Regions from separate parts of the Homo sapiens genome. Here region 2 is linked to region 1. The links come from fine-mapping of genetic effects on gene expression. Tissue or cell type: monocytes. Region 1 holds a variant in brackets; the other region holds the start of a gene. All regions are shown on one strand. Distances are between the middles of the regions.

The links.
Region 2: GFI1B starts here. The variant in region 1 is fine-mapped to the expression of GFI1B in monocytes (TOPMed, PIP above 0.99). The same link has a PIP of 0.9 or more in non-classical monocytes.

Annotation. Positions count from the first base shown.
Region 1 is chr9:132,998,939-133,007,683 of GRCh38, reverse strand. No RefSeq gene overlaps it. Among named protein-coding and RNA genes, the nearest start is that of SNORD141A, 17 kb to the left of the region's middle. RefSeq lists enhancers at 1,839-2,710, 3,188-3,482, 3,357-3,501, 3,585-4,458, 6,294-6,794 and cis regulatory regions at 3,421-3,438, 2,906-3,857, 7,956-8,745. The variant G/A (reference allele first, on the strand shown) is at 3,933.
Region 2 is chr9:132,974,727-132,983,471 of GRCh38, reverse strand. GFI1B (growth factor independent 1B transcriptional repressor) reads right to left here and starts at 4,778. Exons shown (of 7, transcript NM_001377304.1): 1 at 4,631-4,778.

The DNA of each region.
Region 1 (8,745 bases):
GTTCAGTCAAACCTTGGGCAAATGCGTGCCTCAGTTTCCATGTCTGTAAAACAGGGAAAAGTAGCTCCTGCTATTCTATGGGAAGTGCTCAGCTAGTGCCAGCCCAGGTCACAGCAAGTGCTAGGTACAGTTGGATGGTGCCATCTGGGATGGGTCCTCCAAGCCAATCAGATCAGATCAGATTGAGAGCTCATCCTCCCAGGAGATGGTGAGTGCTGTCCTTCAGCCAAACCTCTAGATCCAGGAAGCCGTTCTCAGACAGGTCCACAGTCCACACAGTGTCAGGTAGGACTGACAGTGGGCCTGAACTGTAATTCATGGTTCTAGGCAAAAGACTCGAAAGCACCCATTCACACGTATACTTGCACCCTGTTATCCAGGCCTAGGCACTCCATGCATTGGCCCCTTTGGGTGGGTAGACCCTTCAGTTTGCTTGCCTATCCATCCACCCATTGTCCATCCATCCACCCATCCACCATCCATCCACCCAACCACCATCCATCCATCCATCCATCCATCCACCTATCATCCATCCACCCACCCATCCATCCATCCATCCATCTGTCCATCCATCCGTCCATCCGTCCATCCATCCATCCATCCATCCATGCATCCATCCATCCATCCATCCACCCATCTGTTCATCCATTCATCCATCCACACATCCACCATCCATCCATCCATCCATCCAACCATCCATCCATCCATCCATCCATCCATCCACCCATCTGTTCATCCATCCATCCATCCACACATCCACCATCCATCCATCCACCCATCCATCCATCTATCCATGCTTCCATCCATCCATCCAACCATCCATCCATCCATCATTCATCCATCCATCCACTCACCCAACCATCCATCTGTCCATCTGACAAAAAGCATTTCCTTAATGAGTACTGGGGAAGCAATGGAGAATTTCATAGAACGTGTCACACAATGACACAAATAGCTATTTCATGACAATTATGATCAACATCAGAGGGCAGAATTTCTGGGGGATTTGAGAGTCTATAACTGGCAAGGGGAGGTTTTCTTGTGGGGTGCATGTGGGTTGGGTTTGGGATGACGAAGATAAAGAATTGGTGAAGTGAGGAAACTGCCTTCCAAGTGGAGGGAACAGCATTCCCAGAGCCTCAGAGGCAGGCAAAGCCAGTCTGGAAGGAGGAAGGAGAGAATGTCGCTGGGATTCTGGTGCTGTTGCTCAGACACCCACCCCTAGGGAGAAGTGGCTCTCCCTGCAGATCTCCCACAACCCTGAAGGTGCCTCCCTGCTCCAGCCCAGAGCAGGGCTCCCTGGCCCGTCTGCCATCAGTTGAGGGGGCATTACCTGCTCTGTTTCTCTGCCTGGACTATGCATGAGCTGTTTAGGGCTGGGCTCTGGTTTTCAAGTCTTCATTCAGCAGAGACCACTGTGCACATGGGCTTTTTTTTTTTGGCGGGGGCGGGGGGAGGGGTTACTAAAATATACTTAATAAATTTTACCTTCTTAACTATTTCTAAGTGTACAGTTCAGTGGCATTGGGTACATTCACATTGTTGTGCAATCATCACCACCAGCCAACACCAGAACTTTTCCCAAACTGAAGCTCTGTACCCATTAGACACTAACTCCCCACTCCCCTCCCCCAGATCCTGCCAGCCACCATTCTACTTTCGATGAATTTGACTACTCTAGGGACCTCATATAAGTGGAATCATCCTGTGCTTGTGCTTTTGTGACTGGCCTGTTTCACTCAGCATGATGTCCTCAAGGTCCACGTGTGGCATGTGTCAGAGCTCCATTCCCTTTGATGGCCAAGTCATATTTCCTAGCATGGACAGGCCCCGTTTTGTTTACCCATCATCTGTGGATGGACACTTGGGGTGCCCACTTTTTGGCTGCTGGGGACGATGCTGCTTTGAAGCCCACCAGCTTTTGGTACCTCTTTGGTGGAGTACCTTCGGCCAACTACACACCCACTGAGCAGTTTGTATTTTGCAAAATTTTATAGTGAAGGGACTGCAGACGTCGTCTTGACCAACTCTCTTCCTTTTGCAGCTGAGTGGAACCAAGTCCACTGGCTGCGGCGCTTCCTCTTCGCCCAGCTCTCTGCACGGTGGCCAAGCTCTGGGCCCTTAGCTCCTGGCAGGACCATATGTCCCCTGATCGGACTTTTGTGACACCGGGGCGCCCCACCTCATGCCTGCAGTGGTGCAACCCACACTACTCTAGAAAGTTTATGTGCCTGCTGCACACCCTCCTTTCCCTAGCCCACCGCAGCCATCCCATGGTGTTGTGGGAAATGACCTCAGAGAGCTTCCCCAGACAATGGAGAGTCTTTAGAATGCTGGGCAGCTGGACCCTTGGCCCTGGATACCAAGAGCTATGCAGGCACTTATCCCAAAGCCACCCCCATTCCAGCCAGATGCTGGTCCCCAACCCTGGGAAACAGAGACCAGGACCTGTGCCACTCCTGCTTGGCATGCACCTGGACTCCCCAGGACAGCCCTGCGGGTGGGTTTTCTTATCTCACTTTACAGACAGCATACGGGGCTAAAAAGTAGAGAAATGACTTGCTTAGAGCACCAGGGCCCAGCACAGAGTTCAGCTTCAAAGCCATCATTTCATTGTCCTCCACCAGCAGAGGAAGCCTAGTGACCGCCCCTTCCTACCCCCAGCCTCATCCCCACAATCACAGGGTCCCCTGCTGACAAGTGGCTCCCAGGGCAGGTCTCCCAGCCTAGCAGATCTCCTGGCTTGGAGACCCAGGATTTCTCCTGGCAAGGTCTCTAGGGCAGATGAGGCTGAGCTGCCTTCAAGTCCACCCAGGCCTCCCCAGAGGAGGCCCCCCTCCCAGGAATGGCATCCCAGCTCCTCCCTCCTCTGGGCTGGCTTCATGGGGGCAGACACCTTTACTTCTGCAACACAGCTGGGCTGCAGTCGTACAAGGGATCATGGTTTGCAGGCTGAGCTGGCAGAGGGACACCCCAGGGTGAAGGGCATTTGTGGGGCATCCTGTCATTGAACTTTCTCAGAAGGCCCTGCCCTTCTCTTTTTCCCTCCAAGGCAGTTGTTGGGATGGCAACATCAATGCTGGCCGTGGCACTTCCTCTTTGGCCAGCTCTGCACAGTGGCCGAGCTGTGGGCCCTCAGCTCCTGGCAGGGCCCTGTGTCCCCTGACCAGACTTCCGTGAGGCCAGGCCTCCCCACCCCACACCTGCAGCAGTGCAGCCCATGCTGCTCTAGGAGGTTTATCTGCCAGAGAGGCTTTGAGGGTGGGGAATGAGACCCTTATCTCCCTGCCAGGGGCCTGCCCTACAGTTAGGGCTTTGTAATCTGACATTGTGATTTTTCACTCTTGTTTTTCCCCTCATGGAGGGAAGATTTGCTGAATCACCCAGGGTGAGGTGGTTGGAGGAGGAGGGGGGCACCAGCTGGGGGGCAGTGATAAGTCTCAGGCCGGGCTGAGGGGCGCTGGGGAGCCACCGGGAGGAAACCCTTAACCGTGACGGTTTCCAGCTAAGATTGTAGGCTTCTAAAGAGCTGCCTTGGGGAGGCTGAGCTCAGGGATCCTGAACCTTCCTTCCTGAGGAGTGCAGAGGAGGGCCGGGGGTGCCAGGCAAGCCCCGTAGACATCCCACGAGCCAGCAGGGATGGGAAGGCAGGGACCGTGACCGTGGCAATGACCAAAGATGCATGTGGCTGGCTGCCAAGCCCCAACAGGATAGCCCCCAGGACCCCACTAGGTCACCCTTGCTTTGCACACTGGCCTCCTGAAGCCCTGAGAAGGCGCTGGCTAGAGCACTGCTCCCTAACAGGTTGGGCAAGAGCTGGGGGCAGGGGAGGCCTCTTGTCTCCCCCAGGGCTTTGTGCCCCGCTGTTTTCTTGGCTTGGGGCAGCCCTCTGCACTTCCAACAGATCAAATTCTTTTTGTCTTGCAAATGTC[G/A]ACTTCCCTCATTAGACTTCCCTTAACCCCAGGGCTGGGCTTAGTAACCCCCTTGGGCCTCCAGACCCCCCACAGCGTCTCCTCTCCTGGGTCTTGCCAAGGCCCTGCCCAGAGTGGACGCCCAGCAAATACTTGTTGAACAGACTTTGTACCCTGCGAGAAGTGGTCTTCTATTGGCACTAAGTCTGGGGTCTACAAAGTGGGAAGAAATCCCCAGAGGAGCTGGGCTGGCCCCCAGGAATGCCCTCTGTTGCAGAGAGGACCCAGCTGCTGGGAGTGGTAGACCCCAGCCTGACCTCCAGGTGCCCGACCCTCAGCCTCTGCTGGGGCTGGCCACACAGTAGAGACAGCTGTCCACCAGTGATCTCATGGTAGTGTACAGAGATGGGGTCGTGCTGGGCGCAGGGGGAGGGCTTGGAGCAGAAAGGCCAGGCCGGACGGTGCCTGAGGCTTCCCCAGGATGCTCTCTACGCGACTGACTTCTGATTCCCCTCAGAGTCCGGTGGGCAACCGCAGCTCCGGGGAAGATGGGTGATTGACACCCCTGAGTCAGTGGCCACATCCCTTGCTGCTCCCAAAAGGGGCTCCTGGGGCAGGAAGAGCTGCCCACGGTGGTCGCTTCGCTCCCTTCCTGCTGCCCAGCTGAGCTCAGAGATAAGTCCTTGCTGGGCTGAGAGAGGCCTGGGGCTTAGGCCTTCCCCAGAAATCATGTTCGAGTTCCCCATGTGGAGGAAGGGGCCTGACGGCCACGATAACCCCTCTATTTTTAAGAGATCCGGGAGGAAGTTCCAAGTCACCCTTGGCAGAAATAGCTCTGGGCTTCAGCCTGGTGTCTGTAGCTCCAGCTGTCGGCAGGGACAGCCGAGGAGTGCAGCAGGATTCAGCTCATCACAGCATGGGGGGGCCCACCTGCTCCCCACCTGCTCCCCAACCCCAGACTGGGAGGACCTGTGGCCCTGCAGGTCCAGCCCAGAACCTGGGCTCCAAGGTCAGAGCTTTTGGCAATGAAATAACAACTACATTTATTGTGTGCCTACCCCGCACCCTGAGCCATTCACAGCGTTCACAGGAAAGTGCTGTGATCGTGCCACAAACGTGTCAGAGGGAAGAGAACTGCCTGGGAAGGCATCCGGAGGAGGTGAGGCTTGAGCTGTGCCCAGGACAGTTAGGAGAGAGCTGAGCAAATCGGTAGGAGGAAAAGAGCCACTTGGGTAGAGGGGACAGAAAGAGCAGAGGTTGGGAGTCAAGAGGTGTCTACAGGAGGCTGAGGCAGGAGGATCATTTGAAGCCAGGACTAACTAGGCAACAGAGTGAGACCTCATCACTACAAAAAGTACAAAATTAGCCTGGAGTGGTGGTGAGTACCTGTGGTCCCAGCTATTCTGGAAGCCAAGGCAGCAGGATGGCTTGAAGCCAGGAGTTCAAGACAAGTCTGGGCAACACAGTGAGACCTTGTCTGCACAAAAAAAAGAAAAAGAAACTGGCTGAGCGAAGTGGCTCACACCTGTAATCCCAGCACTTTGAGAGGCTGAGGTGGGCAGATTGCTTGAGCCCAGGAGTATGAGCCCAGGCTGGCAACATGGCTAAACCCTGTCTAATACAAAAATTAGCTGGTTATGTTGGCACATGCCTGTACTCTCAGCTACTCGGGAGGCTGAGGTGGGAGGATCACTTGAGCCCAGGAGGTTGAGGCTGCAGTGAGCTGTGATCATGCCCCTGCACTCCAGCCTGGGTGACAGAGTGAGATCCTCTCTCAACAAACAAACAAACAAACAAAAAATTTTAAAGAAAGAAAGAAAAGAAAAGAAAAAGAAACTGAGGCCCAGAGGGCAGTGTCTGACCAAAGCCACCCAGCCAAGCAGAGTGACATCCCTCGGTCTCCTGACTCCATCCAGGGCTGTCCTTCCACAACCCCCTCTCTTGTGCAGGGAAACTCAGTGCTTCTTAATGAGGTCTCTCTGGCCACCCATCTAACTTGGTGATCTCCACGTCATCAACACCCCCACACCTTTCTTTTTTTTTTTTTTTTTTTGAGACAGAGTCTCACTCTGTCACCCAGGCTGGATGGCAGTGGCACGATCTCAGCTCACTGCAACCTCTGCCTCACAGGTTCAAGTGATTCTCCTGCCTCAGCCCCCAGAGTAGCTGGGATTACAGGCACCGGCTACCACGCCCTGCTAACTTTTTTTTTTTTTTTTTTTTTTGAGATGGGGTTTCACTCTTGTTGCCCAGGCTGGAGTGCAATGGCACGATCTCAGCTCACCGCAACCTCTGCCTCCTGGGTTCAAGTGATTCTCCTGCCTCAGCCTCCCGAGTAGCTGGGATTACAGGCATGCACCACCATGCCAGGCTAATTTTGTATTTTTAGTAGAGACAGGGTTTCTCCATGTTGGTCAGGCTGGTCTCGAACTCCCGACCTCAGGTGATCCGCCTGCCTCAGCCTCCCAAAGTGCTGGGATGACAAGTGTGAGCCACCGCACCTGGCCTAATTTTTGTATTTTTAATAGTTATGGGTTTTCGCCATGTTGGTCAGGCTGGTCTCGAACTCCTGACCTCAGGTGATCCACCCCTTTCTGCCTCCCAAGTGCAGGGATTACAGGCACGGGCCACCACGCCCGGCTTCTCTGCATTCTGTTTCTCCTGGCTTTGTTTAGTCTCTGCATCCCCGCTGAGCTCCAAGAGGGCGGGGATTTCGTCTGTTTTCCCCTCGGCCCGATCCTCACCACCTGTGGCAGGCACTCGATAGATATAGGAGTTGATGAATGAAAGATTTCTGACCTGTCAGGGTGGTCTTTGTGCCTCTGTGAGGGTCCTGGGTGCAGTCTCTCATACATGACTCCAGGGGACACACTGCTGGCTCTGCAGACACTGGCATGGCCCTCTGCTTGCACCCCAGGCTGGCAGAGGTGGGCACCTACAGACTGATCCTGGGCTGGGACCGTTCCCACCAGGTCAGAGAGCCTTGGTAGCAATGCCTTTTCCTTCTCTGCCTCTTAAAACAAATGAACAAATCACCTTTCTTTCCCCACGCCCTCCCCCAAAACATTGTTGTTATAGAAACCACGGAAAACTGTATATATGTATATAAAAGGGACTTAGGTGGGCGTGGTGGCTCATATCTGTAATCCCAGCACTTTGGGAGGCCGAGGCAGGTGGATCACTTGAGGTTAGGAGTTTGAGACCAGCCTGACCAACACGGTGAAACCCCATCTCTACTAAAAGTACAAAAATTAGCCAGGCATGGCAGTGGGTACCTGTAATCCCAGCTACCCAGGGAGGCTGAGGCAGGAGAATCGCTTGAACCCAGGAGGTGGAGGCTGCAGTGAGCCAAGATCACGCCATTGCACTCCAGCCTGGGTGACAGAGTGAGACTCCATCTCAACAAAACAAAACAAAAACAAACAAACAAAAGGACTTAAAAATCCACCCCACAAAGATAACCCTGTGGATGCCGGCGCCTGCCTCCCCCCGCCAGGTGGCTGTGCACAGCTGAGGACCAGGCTGCCCTGTGGCTGCACTTAGGGCTGGGAGGCATTGCCTCATGTGCGACTTTTCCTTGCAGATCACGAAGCACTTGTCGGACCTCCAGACCTCAGGGTGGGCGTGGAACCTCCCAGCTTTCCCTTCTCTTCCTGCTCTTCTTCCTCCTGGTCTCCTGGGTCCTTGCCCCCCTGCCTGCTCTCCTGCTCACTCTCAGACTCAGTTTCCCCAGTCATGAGGAGGGGTGTAATGTTGGAAAGCCGTGCCTCCCTGGATGGAGACAAGTGCCAGGCTGGACACCCCAGAGGGACTCACAAAAGATAACCTGAGCCTGACTCTCACCCGAGGCCTTGGGGCTTGGGGTTAGGGAGGAAAAGGGTTGGGGTGGGATGGAATGGGGTTCAAGTAATTAAAGAAGCAGCCCCCGGCTGCCTGGCCCTCCTGCTCCCAGGGATTTCCACGTGCATCCTGGAGCCCCAGGACCTTCCAGGAAAGGGAGTTTTTTCCCTAGGTCTTGCGGAAGAGCTGAGTAGTGGCAGCATTGTCTGGTGATCTGGAAGGCTATGCCTGGGTTTGATGGGGTCTTCAGCCTGTGCCTGCCCGGGGCTGATTCCCCACTGCAGTGGCTCAAGGCTGGGACGTCAAGGACCCCTGAGGAACCTCGGAGGCCTCTTCCTCCCCAGCTTGTCCTTTGAGTGAAGTGGGTGGAAGTCTCTCTCTCTCTCTCTTTCTCTCTCTCTGTCTGTGTCTGTCTCTCTCCCTCACTCTCTCTCTCTCTCCCTCCTCTGGTCCCTTTCTCCCGCTCTCTGGGCCACCAGGCCCCTGATAACACTTGGAAGGCGCTATCGGCTCAGGAGTGCCCTCCTGCTTGGCCCATGGTTCTACTCCACACCGACGGTTGGCAGCCGGCACCGTGCGATAAACTTATCAGGCCAAACCTGAGCATGCCGGGTCGGAACATGCCCTGCCTCAGATTTCCCTCCCGCAGCATCCCTGCAGCCCCCATCCCCCGGGAACCCTGGGTCCTGCCTGTCTCCGGGCCAGGCCCAACTCCAGCTAGACACCCATGGAGGTGGTCCCGGACAGCCCCTGACCCAGACCAGAGGAAGAGCTGGGGACCCTGTGAGAAGTCACAGGTCCAGTGTCCACCCCACTGTTCCCAAACCAGGCTGTCACTCTACCTACCTTGGAGGCCCTGCCCCAGCTGCTAAGAAGGAGTCGGGAGGTTGCATACCCATCCTAAACTTACTGGGGACCTAGTAGGCCCTGGCCCCAAAGGATAGGACCCAGCATCTGCCAGGAGGTGGCTCACAGAGTAGCAGGGTGGGGGCGA
Region 2 (8,745 bases), 24 kb after region 1:
TGTAATCCCAACATTTTGGGAGGCCGAGGCGGACGGATCACAAGATCAGGAGTTCGAGACCAGCCTAGCCAACACAGTGAAACCTCGTCTCTACAAAAAATACAAAAATTAGCCGGGCATGGTGGCACTTGCCTACAGTTCCAGCTACTCAGGAGGCTGAGGCAGGAGAATCGCTTGAACCCGGGAGGCGGAGGTTGCAGTGAGCCGAGATCACACCACCACTGCACTTCAGCCTGGGTGACAGAGCCACACTCTGTCTCAAAAAAAAAAAAAAAAAAAAAGGAGGGAGAAAAATCAAACCCTCTGACCCTCAAGTCTTTTCCAGGCTCCTAAAAGACCCACATGGCTCCTGAAGAGTCTTGGTGGGGCCAGGCCAGGGACAGACTTCCCTTCAGGAAGCATTGGTATTCTCCTGGGCTCAGGGCCTAAGGAGAACCCAGGTCAACTGACTCTAACCCTGGGCCCCACAACAAGGACACTTTCTAGCGCTCATGAGCCCTGGCCAAGCACTTTTCACTTAGGCACAGGGCAAGATGGGGCTGGCTTCTGGGGTTCTCCAGCCTCAGGAAGGTGATTCTCATGCTTCTTCTAGTGATCTCCCCTGAGCCCCACACCCGCTTTCTTGCCTCCCCCCAGTGTTCTCTCCCCTGAGCTTGGCAAGTGACAGTGACACAGCCAACGCCACGGCCAAGCCCTCTGGCTCACAGAGGGGCCAAATGCACCCGGTGAACTTCCTTTTGGCCCCTGTTAGCAGAGTTGTTTTTTTTTTAAAGAAAAAACAGGAACCAATCACCTATACTGTAGTTAATTAACAACCACTTGGTTTTGATTGACATGAACTCCGTTCTGAGAAGGAGCTAAGAGCAGAGATTATGAAAGAAGCTCAGGAATTCTTCATAAAACAGAGGACTTGATGGTATCGGACCTCCGGAAAGAGGCTCACTGTTATCACTCCATAACCCCCGATCCTGATAGAGTCCCCCTGACCCTGAGTCAGAATCTCAGTCAGTGCTTCTTGAAGACAGGCGACCCTGCACCCTGGCAGGAGCCAGCACCCTAACTTCCAGTTGGACTTGGGTCAACAGGCCTGTGATGTCCCTGTAATGAGGCCCCTTTGTTGCCCAAGGAGTTGAGTCTGATTTGGGGTCCTGGAGCTTGTGACCGCATCAGCCACCAACCTGGGGCTTGGTTTTCCTATCTCTTAAAAGGGACGGTTGGGCTAAGAGATTTCTAAACTTCCCTTTTGCTCTAAAATCCCATGTAGAATTCGTTGACCTTCAGTGAGAGATTGAACCACCTTGACTAAAAGACTTGTCACTCGGGTTCCCCTTTTGGGAGGGTTGGGTAAGACTCAGCTGGTTCTCAGGGTCAGCTACAGAGAACCTTTTTGACTTCCTTTATGTTTAAAGACTCAAGGGAGGCCGGGCGTGGTGGCTCACGCCTGTAATCCCAGCACTTTGGGAGGCCAAGGCAGGCGGATCACCTGAAGTCAGGAGTTCAAGACCAGCCTGGCCAACATGGGGAAACCCCGTCTCTACTAAAAATACAAAACTTAGCTGGGTGTGGTGGCAGGCACCTGTAATCCCAGCTACTCGGGAGGCTGAGGCTGGAGAATCACTTGAACCCAGAAGGCGGAGGTTGCGGTGAGCCCAGATGGCGCCACTGCACTCCAGCCTGGGTGACACAGCGAGACTCTGTCAAAAAAAAAAAAGATTCAAGGGGAAAACAAGACTTGTCCGTGGAGGAGTCGGGGGAAAATGAGCCCAGGTCAGGCCCAGGGGCCCCAGCAGAAAGTAATCATCATCATCATCACCATCATTATTATTATTATTTTGAGACAGAGTCTCACTCTGTCACCTGGGCTGGAGTGCAGTGGTTTGATCTTGGCCCACTGTAACCTCCACCTCCCAGGCCCAAGCGATCCTCCCATCTTAGCTTCTCGAGTAGCTGGGACTACAGGCATGCACCACCACAGTTGGCTAATTTTTGTATTTTTTGTAGAGACGGGGTTTTGCCATGTTGCCCAGGCCGGTCTAAATCATCATTTTTATTTGAAATTTAGAAGGAGTTCTCAAATGTCTCCTCCAAAGCTCAGAGAATGCAATGTCAAAAGTGAGTGAATCTACTTCTGGGTATAGACCCAAAATCATTGGAAGGGGAGACTCAAAGAGATATCTGCATACTCATGTTTATAGCAGCACTATTCACAATAGGCAAAAAGTGGAAGCAACCCAGGTTTCATGGCAGATGAATGTCCAAACAACATGTGGTCTATGGCCAGACTTAGTGGCTCACACCTGTAATCCCAGCACTGTGGGAGGCCGAGGTGGGCAGATCACCTGAGGTCAGGAGTTCCAAGACAAGCCTGGCCAAAATGGCGAAACCCCACCTCTACTAGAAATACAAAAATCAGCCAGGCATGGTGGTGGGTGCCTGTAATCCCAGCTACCCAGGAGGCTGAGGCAGGAGAATCGCTTGAACCCGGGAGGCAGAGGTTGCAGTGAGCCAAGATCGCACCATGGCACTCCAGCTTTGTGACAGAGACTCTGTCTCAAACAAACAAACAAACAAACAAAATGTGGTCTAGACATATGATTGAACATTATTCGGCCTTAAAAAGGAAGGAAATGCTGGCGCATGCTACAACATGGATGAACCTGAAGGATTTATGCTAAGTGAAATAAGCCAATCACAAAAGGACAAATACTGTGTGATTCCTTATATGAGTCCCTAAAATAGGCAATTTCATAGAGACAGAAATAGATAGAGGTTGCCAGAGGTGAGGGGAAGGGAATGGAAGTTACTGTGTAATAGGTATGAAGTTTCAGCTTTATGAGATGAAACAGTTCTGTGGATGGATGGTGGTGATGGTTGCACAGCCATGTGGGTGTACTTAATACCATTGAATGGTACGCTTGAAAATGGCTAAAACGGGAAATTTTATGTTATATGTATTTTATCAAAATAAAAAGACAAGTGAGTGAATGAAACTCTTTCTGCATATCTCTATATTATAGACTAAAGCAGCTCCCATTGGCTTGAATTCCTGGCAAGGAACACACGAAAAGCCTCCCTCTAGACTAAGAGGGGGTGGTGTTTGCTGATGTTTCAACCAAGGGTCTGGATATTGTGGCACAGACAGTGAAGAATCCCATTTGATCAGGCTGTTTTCCCTGGGTGATCTGGAGCCATCTGGTCCCAGAGCCTTTGAAAATCCTTGTACTGTCCAATAAGATTCCCACCCACCCTACCCTGCCCCGCTGAAAGCTTCGGGGCAATGGTCTGCGCTGGTTTTGAGTGATTCCATTAATCAAACCGAAACCAGGTATAGCTCTCCAATGTTCCCCAAGAACTCTCTTCAGGAAGACCAAACTCTGACAGAAAGAGCAAGGGGAATTACGCATTTTCTTGTCCAAAGAATTCCTTCTGCAATACTTCCGAGGACAAGAAACTTGACACTTTGCTAGACTTGGAAGAAATATTCTGCCTGTTGCCTACTAAGAAACATGCAGGCGCGTCCAGGCGGTCAGGTGCAGCTCAGCTGGCTTCTAATATCTACCAGACTCATGCCCACAGATTGTAATCGAATTTACTCCCTAAGAACTCGTGAAAGCTCTGGACTTTCTCCCCGGAAAAATGTACACGGGCACATACCCACGGCGATTCTGCAGACCTCCTCTTCACAAGTCCTGTTTTAGAGTGAGCATGTCTCCTCAGATGCCTCAACACTTAAACTTGGTTTTTTTTCTCCAAAAATAGGTGGAAAGGGCTAACAACAGCCACAGGGAAAGGCGAGCTGAAACAGTACCTCTCCATGGTCGGTCCTATTGTTCCTGGAGCCTGGGCAGTGTGTGGGAGAGGGCAGCCCTGTCATCTCCCCTTAGTAGGCTCTGGAGGGGAGAGCGCCTGACTCTCAAAGTGTCCTGGGAATTTGGCTGGGCGCAGTGGCTAATGCCTGTAATCCCAACACTTTGGGAGGCTGAGGCAGGTGGATCGTTTGAGGTCAAGAGTTCGAGACCAGCCTGGCCAACATGGTGAAACCCGTCTCTACTAAAAATACAAAAATTAGCCAGGCGTGGTAACACGCGCCTGTAATCCCAGCTACTTGGGAGGCTGAGGCAGGAGAATCGCTTGAATTCGGGAGGCAGAGGTTTCAGTGCAATCGCACCACTGCGCTCCAGAGTCTCACTCTGTCTCAAAAAAAAAAAAAAAAAAAAAAAAAAAAGTGTCCCAGGAACTTTAGTCAAGTCCCTAAAGTCTGGGACTGTCTCCGAGGGGGAACACAACTCAGGCACTTGGAAGTGTGTCTCCCTGAGCACTGCCCAGGTCCCCAGGACAGCTGGGTTGTGGGTATGACTTTGTGCCCGAAGGTGACGTCTGTCAGCCTAAAATCAAATTTTGAAAAGTGTTTCTGCGCAGCCGGCAAAGGCGCAATTCCTAGCACAGTGGCTCAGACGAGGCTACGTCCTCACCCTGTTTCTCCCTTGGCTCCTTGCCTTCCAGAGCTTTTCCAGCCCACCTCACCTTTCCTAGGACCGCAGGAGGAGCCAGGGAGCCTGCTGTGAAGCCACCTGCGGCGCACAGGCACATTTCAAAACAAAAGCGTAGAAACGCATCCTCCAGCACTCACCTGTCCGGAGCTGTCCCTCGCCTGGGTTCTGCCGGAGCTTCCCGAGGTGGGAACTGCAAAGCCTCTCTCGGGACTGGCCTCCACTCTGTCAACTGTGTGACTCTTTGCACAAATAGATACTTCTCCTTTTTGCTCTGTCTCTCTGTGTGTTTTTCCTCTTCTGTTCCCCTCCCTGATTTTCAATCTGATTATTTGTGTCAAAATCTGGCGGTGAACAAGCAGCCAATGAAGAGAGCGCGGGAGCTCAGCCGTATTTGCTTATCAAAACTTTCCAGGACACAAGACTTCGAATTCTCATTTCTAACCCTCGACACTTGGAGCGGCACGCTTTCTCTCTGCAGAGAAATTCAGAATTTCGCTGGAAATTTTGAATAACATCTGCACAAAAAGAAAGTGATGGCTAAATTATTAAATTTTAAAAATTAAAGTTAGAAAAAGCTCTAACTTATAAAACTCGATTTTGCATAGGGAAGTCATTGCTCTTTGGTTTTTTTCTTCTTTCTTTTCTCTTGCCTTTTTTCTTCCTTCCCTCCTTCCCTCCTTTTTCCTTCCTTCTCTTCCTCCTTTCTTTCTTCCTCCCTCCCTGCCTCCTTCCTTCCCTTCCTTATTTTCCTTCTTCCTCCCTCCTTCTTTCCTTCCCTCCCTCCCTCCTTCTCCTCCTCTCCTCTCTCTCTCTTCCCTCCTTTCCTCCCTCCTTTTTTCCCTGCCTCCCTCCTCGCTGCCTCCTCCCCTCCCTCCCTCCCCAAGTTCAGCACCCTGAGGCTTGTGAGAGCCAGGCTGGTGCAATGCCCCTAGTACCCGAGCCGGCCACATGCATAGAGGCCCCTCTTGTCCTTGCAGAGGTCATATCTCAGAAGAGACATCAAATTTGCATTTCCCCCAGATATGACCTTTGAGCGGGTAGAGGCACCCTGGAGGTGTGGCAGTGAGTTCGGAGGCCAGGAGACGCTCGGCCTGCTGAAGCTGCCATACAGATTGAAGGCCAGGTGCCAGAGCCCGTGTGTGCTGCCCTCTGGTGGCAGACAAAGTGATGGGGAGGCCAGTGGGGGCCTCTGGGGTGTCCCATTGATGCTGGGGGGAGTGAGGGCGGTAAAGCTTGGCTGAGCTGGCTGGGGCATTTCTTCCCATTTGGCAGGGCGTCCCATCCCCTGGCTCCCCACCTTCTCCCTCCTCCTCTGGCCCCCGCCTCCTCCCGCTTGCAGGATGACTGATTTATTTCAGGAGGTTTTGCATAAGATGAGAACGCCACAAACAGAGCACTGTTAGGCTGCTTTGTCTGCTCTTCCAGCCCGGGTGCTGGAGATATTATGTTTCCCTCATAAAGAAAACAAGTCTGGTGACAGGAAGCCCCAATTTAAACTGCAAGTCCAAGGTTCAAAATGAAGAAAAAGGGGTGTTTCAGGCGAGGTCTTTCTGCTGGGCCAGCCCTGGAGCACCAGCCAGGAGGACACAACCCTGTGGTCACCAGGCCTCAGTAATGCTGGGGTGTCAGTCCCAGCCCCAGGCTACAGACAGCAGACCACTGCTCCCAGCTCTGTGGTCTCTCTTGGTGGAAAGAAACATCTTTTTAAAAAATTATTATTGGCTGGGCACAGTGGTTCACGCCTGTAATCCCAGCACTTTGAGAGGCCGAGGCAGGCGAGGATCACTTGAGATCGGGAGTTCAAGACCAGCCTGACCAACATGGAGAAACCCCATCTCTACAAAAAATACAAAATTAGCTGGGTGTGGTGGCACATGCCTGTAATCTCAGCCACTTAGGAGGCTGAGGCAGGATAATTGCTTGAACCCAGAAGGCAGAGGTTGCGGTGAGTCCAGATCGCACCATTGCACTTCAGCCTGGGCAACAAGAGCAAAATTCTGTCTCAAGAAAATTATTATTATTATTATTATTTTCTTAGAGACAGGAGTTGGCTTTGTAGCCCAGACTGGAGTGCAGTGTTGCAATCATAGCTCACTGCAGCCTCGACCTCCCTGGCTCAAGAGATCCTCCTGCTTCAGCCTCTTGAGTGGCTGGGACTACAGGCGCACCACCATGCCTGGTTAATTTTTTTATTTTTTTTAGAGATGGGGTCTTGCTATGCTGTCCAGTCTGGTCTAAATCATTATTTTTATTTGAAATTTAGAAGTTCTCAAATGTCTCCTCTAAAATTCAGAGAATGCAATGTCAAAAGTGAGTGAATCTACTTCTGGGTATAGACTCAAAATCACTGGAAGCAGAATCGAAGAGATATTTGCACACTTACATTTATAGTGGTACTATTCACAATAGGCTGGTCTTGAACTCCTGGCCTCAAGCGATCCTCCTGCCTCAGCCTCCCAAAGTGCTGGGATTACAGGCACGAGCTGCTGTGCCCAGCCAGGGACACATCTTGAGTATTCTGTGGGTGTTGTACATTGCCAACAATCAGCTAGAACTGCTTGTCATTATGCAGAAAACTTAAAATATTCTCTCCAAGTCAACAAGTCCCCAGTTTCCTCATGTTCTCACTTCCCTATACACACATACACACATTTTGCTACTGTAAACCAGCGTGTCATTTTCCGTGAAACATGATTTTATGGAAGTGCTTCCTAAGTTCGTTTGCAGCCTTTATTGACATCTTTAATGGTTTCACCATTAAATCTTTAATGGTTTCATGGTTTATCTCACCAAACGCTTCCTCCACTTGTTTAGGGTGTTTTCTAATAGGAAGCGGCTGTATCAGGCACATGCAGTTCAACTGCTGTTCTAAGATTGTAATCCCACTTTAGGGTCCCTACCTTCCCCCGTGAGTAACTGACACAGGGACAGCCTTCCCAGACCCAGACCAGGGACCCAGCCTGCAGATGAAGCCACCCAGGTTCCCCTTGATGGGAGAGCAGTGGCCAGGCAGCCAGTCCCCTGGCATAGCAGTTGAAGCCAGGAGTCCCCAGCCAGCCTCACCCAGGCCCTTACAGCCCTGGACTTCCCATGCTCTGTGTCCCCTCCAGGGCTGCCTGTAAAGCTACCAGCACTTCCCTTAGTGAGCAGCCCTGGAGTCAACACCTTCATTTAGTCTCTCCCAAGAGCTAAATCGCTTCCGCATTCCCATGCCCATTCATCAGTTTATTCATTCATTTAACAGTTACCATTAGGTACCTTTCGTGTATCAGCTCTTTCCTTCCCTCCCTTATGTAACACATGTGTATCGAGTGCCCACAACAAGGCACCACATGCTGGGGTTTCAAAAAACAGCCGGACTTTTCATATTCCTTCCTGGTCTAGAGGGTAGGAAAGAGCAACCTGAAATTTACAATTTGGGGTGACAAGTGCTGTGATATAAACATAGTATACAAAAGAAGCCTGGGGCATTTGGAAATGGACCCAGGCTTGGGGGGGTTGGTGAAGGAAGTGATATCTAAGTTGATGCCTAGGCTAAGTTAGTTGGGAGAAGGAAGGTAGGGAAAAGTGTCTCAAAGAAGAACAGCATTGTGCTAAGAGCTGGAGGTCCCCTGAAGGGAGCTGACAGCAGCCAAGTTCATTAGGGAAGAAACGCAGACTGAAGGAAGGGGAGGGAAGGTTAGGACTTTTGAGAGCTGAGCCTAGAGAAAGAAAAAGAACAAAGATCAGGAAGATTCTTCCCTGGTTTAAAAACCTTCAATAATTTCCCTTTACCTTTAGGACAAAAATCTCAGCTTCAGAGATCAATACTCCGTGTTTTTCACAATGTCGGCACCCTTTCAAATAACAGCACTTTTCCAGATGCGAGTTGCAGGAAGTTTCAAAAAGATGGGGTCTTGCTCTGTAGCCCAGGCTGGTCTTGAACTCCTGGTCTCAAGCAATCCTCCCAAGCTCCTGAGTAGCTGGGATTACAGGTGCATGCCACCGTGCCCAGTACAGAAACACAATTTAAACTCATTTAATAATAACAATGAAACAATTAATTCATGTCACAGAAAATTTTCAGCTTCTGACATGGTTGGATCCAGATGCTCAAATGATACTGTCTGGAATCTCACTCATTCAGGTCATTGGCACTTCTCGTGCCCTCTGCCTGGATGGCCTAACTCTCTGATTTCCCCAAGCCTGTCTCCTTCTTGTCATCCAGGTCTTAGCGGAAATGTTACTTCTGCAGAAAGACCTCCTTGACCTT